Regions from separate parts of the Homo sapiens genome. Here region 2 is linked to region 1. The links come from fine-mapping of genetic effects on gene expression. A gene starts in region 1. The other region holds a variant in brackets. All regions are shown on one strand. Distances are from middle to middle. Region 1 holds the start of ZSWIM5 (zinc finger SWIM-type containing 5). Region 2 overlaps ZSWIM5 (zinc finger SWIM-type containing 5).

What was found. PIP is the estimated chance that this variant, and not a neighbour inherited with it, causes the effect.
Region 2: its variant is fine-mapped to the expression of ZSWIM5 in whole blood (INTERVAL, PIP 0.97).

Annotation. Positions count from the first base shown.
Region 1 is chr1:45,204,382-45,209,760 of GRCh38, reverse strand. ZSWIM5 (zinc finger SWIM-type containing 5) reads left to right here and starts at 3,156. Exons shown (of 14, transcript NM_020883.2): 1 at 3,156-4,005. The coding sequence starts at 3,411. RefSeq lists silencers at 2,930-3,349, 3,550-3,709 and enhancers at 2,778-3,677, 3,678-4,578.
Region 2 is chr1:45,172,282-45,177,660 of GRCh38, reverse strand. All of the region lies in intron 1 of ZSWIM5 (zinc finger SWIM-type containing 5), which reads left to right. Among named protein-coding and RNA genes, the nearest start is that of ZSWIM5, 32 kb to the left of the region's middle. The variant A/TA (reference allele first, on the strand shown) is at 3,091.

The DNA.
Region 1 (5,379 bases):
TTTTGCCTCCAGACTTTATCTTTCTCCTGATTCATCCTACATATTTCTGTCTGGTTAATATTCCTAAAACACTGCCTTTTATCATATAACTGTCCTGCTCAAAATACCTTTATTAGCTTCCCTCCACCAACCTAAGAAAATGCAGATTCCTCAAGTTAGCATTTTACAATGCTTTTAAAAGCTTTTCACAATGTCTCCTGTCTCTCTTGCAGTCTTTTCCCACTATTTCTCACCACAAACTTATGGTCCAATTAATCTAGCATTCTTGTTATTCACAACCACATATTGCATATTCCCAAATGTCTTATTTGCTGTGTTATTACCATCTGTATTTATATATTTATGTGCTTATTTTTTATTTTTTATTTATGTTTTTGAGACACAGTCTCACTCTGTCTCCCAGGCTGGCAGTGGTATAATCTCGGCTCAGTGCAACTCCGCCTCCTAGGTTCAAGCAATTCTCCTGCCTCAGCCTCCCGAGTAGCTGGGATTACAGATGCCCACCATCATGCCCAGCTAATTTTTGTATTTTTGGTAGAGGTGGAGTTTCACCATGTTGACCAGGCTTGTCTCGAACTCCTGGCCTCAAGTGATCCACCCACCTCAGCCTCCCAAAGTGTTGGAATTACAGGTGTGAGCCACCACGCCCGCCTAACATGGAGCTTATAGTCTATTTTGGGAAACAGACATTAAGCAAATAAACACATAAATATAGGCTAGGCGCCATGGCTCACACTTGTAATCCCAGCACTTTGGGAGGCTGAAGCGGGCAGATCACTTGAAGCCGGAGTTTGAGACCAGCCTGGTCAATGTGGTAAAACCCCATCTCTACTAAAAATACAAAAATTAGCTGGGCATGGTGGCATACACGCCTGTAGACCCAGCTACTTGGGAGGCTGAGGCAAGAGAATCACTTGAACCCAGGAGGCGGAAGTTGCAGTGAGCCAAGATTGTGCCACTGCACTCCAACCTGGGTGTGACAGAGTGAGACTGCATCTCAAAAAAAAAAAAAAAAAAAAAAAAGACAGTAACTGATTAAATCAGAATAACATATTCATTGATTCAAAGTGCAAATATTTTCTGAACATCTTCTATGTGTAGGCATTTTGGCAGGTGGTAGAAATAGGCCCTTACATGGAAATGGTTCCTGCCCTTCCACAGCTCATAGTCTAGTTAGGGGGACAGGCATTAAAGGAATATTCGTTCTCCCAAAAAACTCTGATAAATTATAGGAAAGAAAATAGTGTGTGTTATGGAAGCCTGTAAATGTGGTACCAGATTCAAGGTGGAGTAGGGATTATGCTATTTTGCAGTAATCTATTTATAGTTATTTACAGATATAAATCCATTTACCAATATAAACAGATTTCTTTTTCTTTCTTTTTTTGTTTTTTTAGAGAGGGTCTTGCTCTGTTGCCTGGGCTAGAGTGCAGTGGCATGATCATAGCTTACTGTAACCTTGAACTCCTGGGCTCAATCAATCCTCCTACATCAGCCTTCAGGGTAGCTAGGACTACAGGGTGTAGGCCACTAATCCCTGCTATTTTTTATTTCTTGTGTAGAGATGGGGTCTCCAGTCTGCTCTGTTGCCCAGGCTGGTCTAGAACTCCTGGCCTCAAGGGATCCTCCACTTTGGCCTCCCAAAGCCTTGGGATTACAGGCATGCGCCACTGCATCTGGCCTAAACAGATACTTATTGAGTACCTACTACACTGAATAAGCAAACAATTTGAATTACTTCTAATTCCAGCCAGCCTGGGCAACATAGGGAGACCGCCCCTCTACAAAAATTTAGAATTAGCTGGGTGTGGTGCTGTGCATCTGTTGTCCTAGTTATTCTGGAGGCTGAGATGGAAGGATAGTTTGAGTCCAAGAGTTTGAGGTTGCAGTGATCACCCCACTGCACTCCGGGCTGGACATCAGAGTGAGATCCTGTCTCTAAAAAAACTTTTTTTAAAGTGAATTATTTCTAATTCTTACAACATTTATGTGTAGAAGCATTATTACTAGCTCCCTTTTGCAAATGATTTAATAGAATCATGAATAGCATCACACACAGCAAGTGTGATTCACACCCAATTCTGCCTGTGCTCTTTAATTCTGAGATTACAGCAAAACCAAACTGTGGCTCCAGCCTGTCTCCAATCATTTACTCTCTTCTTACTCTTATTTTATCCTACACTCTAAATCTCTCTTACTTTGAAGGGCAAACTCAACTATAGAAACTCTTTTAATACAGTTCTTGGAACGTTTTAAAGTTGTAGAGATTAGTTTGTCAGCAAATTCTGAAATAATCTGAGCTTTCTTGATCGAGCAAGAAACAGTAACTTACAATTGCGTGTTGTTTATGGAGTTAGTGATGAAGCTGCCATTCTTGAGCACCCACTATGTGCCAGGCAGAGGATAAATTATAGTGAAGGAAATAGACATGATTCTCACTCTCATGGAGTTGACAGTCAGACATTAAACAAATATATAAAAATACAACTATGTAAAGGTGTAGAAGACTGAGCCAAGTGAGGAAAACATGAAAGACCTAATTCAGATTGGAGGTAGGGGATCAGAGAATTCTACCAAAAAACACGCAAAAGTGTTTTGTATTCTAGGATGCAAGGTGCTAAACCCTCCAAAAGACCCCACCAGGATGCAACCCCCGTGGCGATAAGATCTTGATGCCCCATTGTCAAGGGGTGGTGCGACTTTGTCCCACTCTGGGGTGGGGTGACCGCCGGCTTTATCCTACATTGTTGTGGCGTGAGGTGAGTTTTCATCATCCGAACTTTCTGATGTTTTCCCCTAGTGTCTTCTTTCCCAGCGTCTTTCTGCCAGATCTTCCGCTCTGCTGTGACAACCTCCTGTCACATCAGTACCGTTGGAGCTGGATTGTTTTTTTCTCCTTGTACCCCGCGAGCCTATAACTTCACGGAGGCGGCTCCTTGGATGGCTTATGGCCCCGCCATTTCATTCAGTCACACAGTCCATTCCTGTCTGGCCGGCGGCAGGTGGGTTGGAGGTGCGCGGGCGGGCGGGCGGGCGTGCGAGAGCGTCCGGCGCTCCTCTCCCCTCCGCGGTCGCCGGATCCGCGAGAGCGCTCGGCTCGCGTTCTAGGCTGTTTGCGCCTGGAGCGCGCCGCGGGCCCGCGCTCGCTCCCGCCTGTCTTCGCGTCCGCGGCGGCCAGGACACCGCGCGCCGCCTCACGCTACCCTGCAGGCCGCCCGCGTCTGCCCTCGCGGCGCGCTCCCGGGCCCGGCCGCGGTTCCCCACTCGGGCCGGCTGGCTCGCGGGTTCTCTCGCCCCGCCCCCCTCGGCGCCACCGCTGGGCGCTTGCGCGGGGCGCGTGGCCGTGGCCAGGGTCTCCGCCGCAGCCCGAGCAGCCGCCGCCGCCTCAGTCAGTCAGTCAGTCCCCAGCAATGGCGGACGGAGGTGAGCGAGAGGAGCTGCTCTCGCCGTCACCGGTCTCTCCGGCTAAGCGGCAGTGTTCGTGGCCCAGCCCGCAGGCTCATCACCCTCGCGGTTCGCCTGGGGCAGCCGGCGGAGGGGCAGGGGGCGTCGGCAGCAGCTGCCTGGTCCTCGGGGCCCGCCCCCACCTGCAGCCGGATTCCTTACTGGACTGCGCCGCCAAGACGGTGGCGGAAAAGTGGGCATACGAACGGGTGGAGGAGCGCTTCGAGCGGATCCCGGAGCCCGTGCAGCGCCGCATCGTCTACTGGTCCTTCCCGCGGAATGAGCGGGAGATCTGCATGTACTCCAGCTTCCAGTACCGGGGCGGCCCCGGCGCCGGCGCTGCTGGCGGCGCCGCGGGGGCTTCGCCGGCCGAGGAGGGGCCGCAGCCACCCCCCGGGGCCGCCGCTCCGGCCGGCTCCGCCCCCGGGGGCGTCGCGGCTGGGGCATCCCCCGGGCTGGGCGCAGGGGCCGGCGCGGCCGGCTGCGGTGGCGAGGGGCTCCCGTTCCGCCGGGGCATCCGTCTGCTGGACAGCGGCTCCGTGGAGAACGTGCTGCAAGTCGGTATGTGCTCGTCCAGGCGTTCTCGGGTCCTCAGCCTCCTCTTCCGCGGGTGCCTCTTCTCGGCCCGAGCCCTGGGGCCGAGACCCCGGCCTTCTGCCCAACTCCTGTACCCCTGCCGAAGGACGAACAAGTCACAAAAACTTTTTTCAACCTTTCACTCAGGTCCACCACTGCTCTTTCCTCCACTGACCCTCTACCCCAATTTCTTTTTGTTTGAAGAGTGAATAGATCTCTCTTCTTCACTCTTTCTATTCCCCACACCAAGGCAAAGAGAATGGGGAGGTATGACTTTTTGGATGTAATAATTTCAGAAATGTGTTGTCCTAATTTAAGTTTGGAGAGGAGAGGATTGTTAGTAAATCTGGAACAAGCGGTTTTAGAGGGAGCGTTTGAGGGACAGACTGTCAGAGGCAATCTATAGCCCTAGCCGATTGAGTCTCGATGAAATTAACACTGGGAAAAAAGCCCCAACAAAATACTGCATGTTTCAGACAGTTTTAATTGTCTGCGTTAGGATTTTTCCCCTGGACCGGTGATGCTTGGGAATCTAGGCTGCGGACTAACAATAACCGAAGATGGAAATGTGACAGCTTCTCCTCCACACCCCCACCCAAGGAAAAAAAAAAAAAAAGCCATACAATCTGGAGTGGGGGTGGGGTCTCTCTTCCTTGTCAGACTGGGGTAAATCAAAAGCTGGTCACGCTGGGTTTTTCAAAAGCTTCTCATTTAACAAGTCCTATTTGCTTTTATCTTTTTGTTATGGAAAAATATATTATACAAATGATTTCTTCCTTTACTCCTCCGGAGCTTCTAGTCAGTTTGTTAATCTTATTAAATATATAAATACAGTGCTTCTGATTTGTGGAATGGTTAAGGAGAAGGATAAAAAAATGATTAACATTGACTTTGCTATGTGGAAAATTAAAACACGAATTTTTTTCTATTTGGATTATTATGGCATTCTGGAAGTACATATCTTTATGCGTTTTATTGTACACTATATGCTCGTATTAATTGAAGAAAATACTGATTTTTGAAAGGAGTTGAAGGGAGGTTGTTTTTAGAATTAAACAAGCACAGAAAGACACAAACCCCAGACATCTAGCTCTCCAGGTAAAACCTGGAGAAAACATTTGAAAAATGTTTTTCTTTGAATCGTGCTGTTTCATATAAAGTAATCTGCTTCTGGTTATTGAGAATCATTGATTCCTGTGTTTCTAACCAAAACAACAGCATACCACAACTTGTTTTGCAAATGTGAAATGTAAATTTATCCTGTGCCAGAATATAGTGACAGTGGCTTGAGCAAGTTTTGTTTATTTGAAAGAGGTTAGTCCTTTATTTGTGTATATTTTTGAAAGAGTGACTTGAATA
Region 2 (5,379 bases), 32 kb after region 1:
TGGTTACTGCTTGGTATCAAGTAGCAACTGATTGCTCAATCTCCCCGAATTGTCTTATAAAGCAGCAGAGAGAATCCCCTTTTATGCCCATCTTTCATTTCATGAGATTCAGACCTGGGAAATATTTTGCTATTAAAGGTATATTTTGCATACCCCTCTGTAACTTTCACCATTATTGATTTCACAGTTTGGGTTGTAGGAATTGTAGAAATTGCTCTATTGCTGTTACCACTCTGTATAACCTGCAAACTTAAGTACCTTAAATTCCCTGTGTATATGGTGTAGGTTTTTCAGTTCCAATGTGGAAAAGGGGGTTGGCCATAGTTCATAGCCTTGTTAGAGTCTATAACAACTCTTAATGATTGGAAGTGTAAAATAAATAAGAACAAGCATTCAGTACATTTAAGAAATTTTTTTCTTTTTCAGTGTCATATTCTTTTCTTCTTTCCTATTATTTTCTTTAGTGTTTATTCCTTATTTTCTGCATACGTTTTAGAAACATAATCACTGTATAGCAAAATAGCTAATTATGAGGTGTCATACAATGATACTGCTCTTCTCTTCCCTCCTCTCTCTAGTTCCTGAATCCTTAATCATTCCCTTTTCTTCTGACTTCCCTTCCTGAAAACTTTAGTCCAAACCTGGGAGAAGCAAGAGAAAAGGAAGTGAGATGGGAAGAAGGGATAGTAGCAGTGGCCTGAAAGGGTATATTGGAGCCCAACTGGAGCAGTGGCCTAGCATGGGGTGCTAGAGCCAAAGTGGGGTGAGGAGGGTATCCACATGAAGGGGGATATAATTTGAGATGTCAGAGTCTGAAAGGGTTGAGGATGACTTTTGTATAGGGGTGAAGGGGAGTGTAGAGCCATAGGGTGTTAGTGTTCAGATGGGGTGAAGTGGGCATAGCAGGGGGTGGCAGCAGTAGGTGCAGGTTTTTTGAGCTTGAGCACAGTGAGAAGAATGTCCTTATTGGCAGGGAGGAGCTGTGGTGGCAATGAAAGATTGGTTATTTATAGATATTGATCAACTAAGTAAATCAATTAAGGATAACAGGAGCCAAATTTCTCACTATCAGAAAAAGTAGCTAAAATGTAGACCAGGCCGGGCGCGGTGGCTCATGCCTGTAATCCCAACACTTTGGGAGGCCAAGGCGGGTGGATCACCTGAGGTCATGAGTTCAAGACCAGCCTGGCCAACATGACGAAACCCCGTCTCTACTAAAAAATAGAAAAATTAGCTCGGTGTGGTGGCATGCACCTGTAGTCTCAGCTACTCAGGAGACTGAGGCAGGAGAATCGCTTGAACCCAGGAGGTGGGGGTGGCAGTGAGCCAAGATTGTGCCATAGCACTCCAGCCTGGGCAACAAGCAAGACTCCGTCTGAAAAATAAAATAAGATAAGAAAAGATAAAGACCAGGGAGAAAAGGTGAATGAACTCTGGGTTTTGGATTGTAATTGGAGATACCCACGTGAACTCATGGTTTTTAGTATATATTGGAATATATATATAATATATATTATATATATATATGGCATTCAGTTAACTGAGAGGGCCTTAGAGCAGTAATATCCCAATAGCAATAAGCACACCTAATGCCCATATCTTGGTTTCCAAGTACTTTTCTCCGATAAAAGGAACAAAGCCTCCTTGGAGAAATGGCTGAATTTAGGGGTGAGGCAGAGAAAGTATCAAATGAGCCTTGAACATGTTCTTGTGCCAGAAAGCAGGGAGGTTCTTAAAGAATTATAGCAACACATCAAAAAGGATACAAAAGCCAGCTTTGAAGAGATTCCCATTAGCCAAATATGGGATGAATTGAGTGTCAAAATAATGATAATAATGGATATAACCAACCCATTGAATGAAATAGAAACCCATGAGTTCATTGTGTCAATGGTTTTTTTTTTTTAAAGGCCAGGTGCCATGGTTCATGCCTATAATCCCAGCACTTCGGGAGGCTGAGGAGGGAAGATCACATGAGCCCAGGAGTTTGAGACCAGCCTGGGCAACATGGCAAAACACCGTCTCTACAAAAATTTTAAAAAATTAGCCGGGCATGGTGGTGCATGCCTGTGGTCTCAGCTACTTTAGGAGGCTGAGGTGGGAGGATCGCTTGGGCCCAGAAGGTTAAGGCTGCAGTGAGCTGGGATTGCTCCACTGCACTGCAGCTTGGGCGACAGAATGAAACCCTGTCTCCAAAATAAAATATTTTTAGAAAGAGTAAGTTGAAAATTTGATGAGTATATTGGCATAATGTCAATATGGTTCCCATGAGATACTTTAATTATAAGGGGAAAAAGGTAACTTTAAAGTGAGGAATCCAGGCAAACACTACTGTGATCAAATGAGCAAAGTTAACCTCACCAGTGATGGGAGAAATCAAAATTGTGTGCCATTTGATAGGAAACAATAAGAACATGGCTCCACTTCTATGATATTACTGCCAAAGATAGATAACCTGAATCTAATCATGATGAAATAACAGGCACTACTGAGGGACATTCTTCAAAATAGCTAGCCTGAAGTCTTCGTAAGTATCAGAAGTCAGAAAGTTAAGACTACAGGTGGTTCCAGATTGAAGGAGAATAAGGAGACATAAAAACTAAATGCATTGTATGACTTTGGACTGGATCCTTATGGGGACATTTTTGGGGCAATTGGCAACAGTTGAATGGGGCCTGTGCATTATATGATAATGTTATGGTATTGATTTCTGATTTTCATGATTTTTATAGTTCTGTAGGAGAATATCTTTGAAGGAAATACACAAAAAAAGTATTCTGGGGTGATAAGGCAGTACGTTGACAACTTACTCTCCAATAACTCATTTAAAAATTATTTGAACTGTACTTGCAACTTTTCTGTAAGTTTGAGATTGTTTCAAAATAAAAAGGGATAAATATGATAATCTTTTTCTTTTTTTTGAGACAGAATCTTGCTCTGTGGCCCAGGCTGTAGTGCAGTGGCGCGATCTCAGCTCACTGCAAACTCCACCTTGCAGGTTCAAGCAATTCTCCTGTCCCAGCTCCCCGAGTAGGAGAGTATTTTGTATTGGGTGTGTCATGCCCAGCTAATTTTTTTTTTTTTTTTTTT[A/TA]GTAGAGTTGGGGTTTCACCATGTTGGCCAGGCAGGTCTCAAACTCCTGGCCTAAAGTGATCCGCCCACCTCGGCTTCCCAAAGTCCTGGGATTACAGGTGTGAGCCACCTCACTGAGCTGATAATGAACTTGAATGAACTTTGATTAATAGTGAGTACTCCTCCAATTACCTATTTATTTTGAATTGTTTAAGAGAATATGTTTTTCTTAGCTTACATTAAAAATCTCCAATTATTTTTATTAAAAGATCACTTTTGAATGTTTTAGTTTTATTTCATATTTTGTTTTGTTTTTTTGAGACAAGGTCTCGCTTTCTCACCCAGGCTGGAATGCAGTGGCCTGATCTTGGCTCACTGCAACCTCTGTCTCCGGGTTCAAGCAATTCTCCTGCCTCAGCCTCCTGAGTAGCTGGGAATACAGGTGTATGACACCATACTTGGCTAATTTTTATATTTTTTGTAGAAATGGGGTTTTACCTTGTTGGCCAGGCTGGTCTCAAATTCCTGACCTCAAGTGATCCACCCACCTTGGCCTCCCAAAGTGCTGGCATTACAGTCGTGAGCCACTGCACCCAGCCTTCATGTTCATTTTAAAGGTTAAATTATAATCAGTACAAACATACGTAACTCATCTAATTTCATTTTAAATGATATTTGGTTCCTACTCAGATTATAAGCTAAAGTTTTTTAAGCAATTATGTCTTTATTGGTTATATAAATTTACAGTCTTTTAAAGCTGTGTAAATATTGCCACTTAATATAGTTTCACTTTTTATTTGCATAACAATAATAACAATATTAAAAGCTAACACAAAGTGCTGGGCGCTTTGCCAAATATTTAACATGTTATAATTTATGTAATCCATATAATATTCTTTTGAGGTATGTACTATTATTATCCCAATTTTACATATGAGGAAATGAGGCCCTGATAAGAAACTAGTCCAAATTTATATAGTTATGTGGGGCAGCTGGGGTTAGAGCCCGGCTCCTGTGTTCAAAATCTTAATCACTGTTCAGTTATGCACAGTGAAAAATGCATGGATAACTTAAGTCCTATAGAGATTGAAAAGAATGAAAAAAACTCAGTTAAATTTAGGAATTATATACTGAAATTGTTTCCTTTTCTGTCTATAAGAAAATTCAGACATAGGTTTTGTATTTGGTGTGTGACACTAATATTTATTGCCTTAGTAACATCCATTCTTGCCTTTTATGTAATATCACACTTTTAATGTACAGACTTAAAGAGAAATTATTTAGTTGGTGCTGTACCAGAGCAGTAGCTCCGTTATTGAGACTAATATATTCAGTTCATATGTTGTGGACCTATTATGTATTCATGCAAAAGTAACGTTTCCTCTAGTAGTACCAAATTGTTTAAATTGGTGATGATTATAATTTTTGAGACAAGGTCTTGCTATGTCACCCAGGCTGGAGTACAGTGGTATGATCATAGTGTACTGCAGCCTTGAACTCTTGGGCTTAAGCAATCCTCCTGCCTCAGCCTCCCAAGAAGTTGGGACCACAGGCACACACCACCATGCCCGGCTAATTTTTTTTATTTTTTGTAGAGACTGGGTCTCACTGTGTTTCCCAGGCTGGTCTCGAATTCCTGGTCTTAAGCAATCTTCCCACCTTGGCTTCCGAAAGCATTGGGATTATAGGCATGAGCACAATGCCTAGCAGCAGTAAGTTTTAACAAAGGAAGAAAAGAGGCACAACATTCTGAAGAGTGATTTTAAGAATGATTTGCATAATAATTATAAACTAAATATATGATTCCTTTGTTTAACTGCTCTAAACTGTGATCCTGTAGGTCCAGATAAGACTACAAGGACATGCTGTGGGAGAAAAAGATATATAGCAATCTTTGTAGTTCCTTTTGGGGGAGGATATTTTTCCCCAAAGAGTTCAGCTGCAAGAGGTAGTGTATCTGAGGCACCTATTAAAATATAAAGCTCTGTATTGTTGATGTTATTGTCTTGTCTAAGGTCTTATGTAGCTTGTTTGCTGCAGAACTACCAATTACAACAGCCATTCATTATCATGTTGCAAAATAAAACAGTTCAAAAATATAAATTAGCACTTTTTCAGCTTTTTTACGTAGTAAAATATTTTTAAAAATATTTTGTTCTTTTCAGTTCACTTCACTAAGAATATATCTGCACTGCTAATTTGGTTCTGCGTTCTTCAGTTATTATAATATTGCCTTTAACCAATATATTTGCTGTTTATTACCAATTGAAGTTGATATTTTATCTTCCTTTTTGGACAAGTTAACTTTTT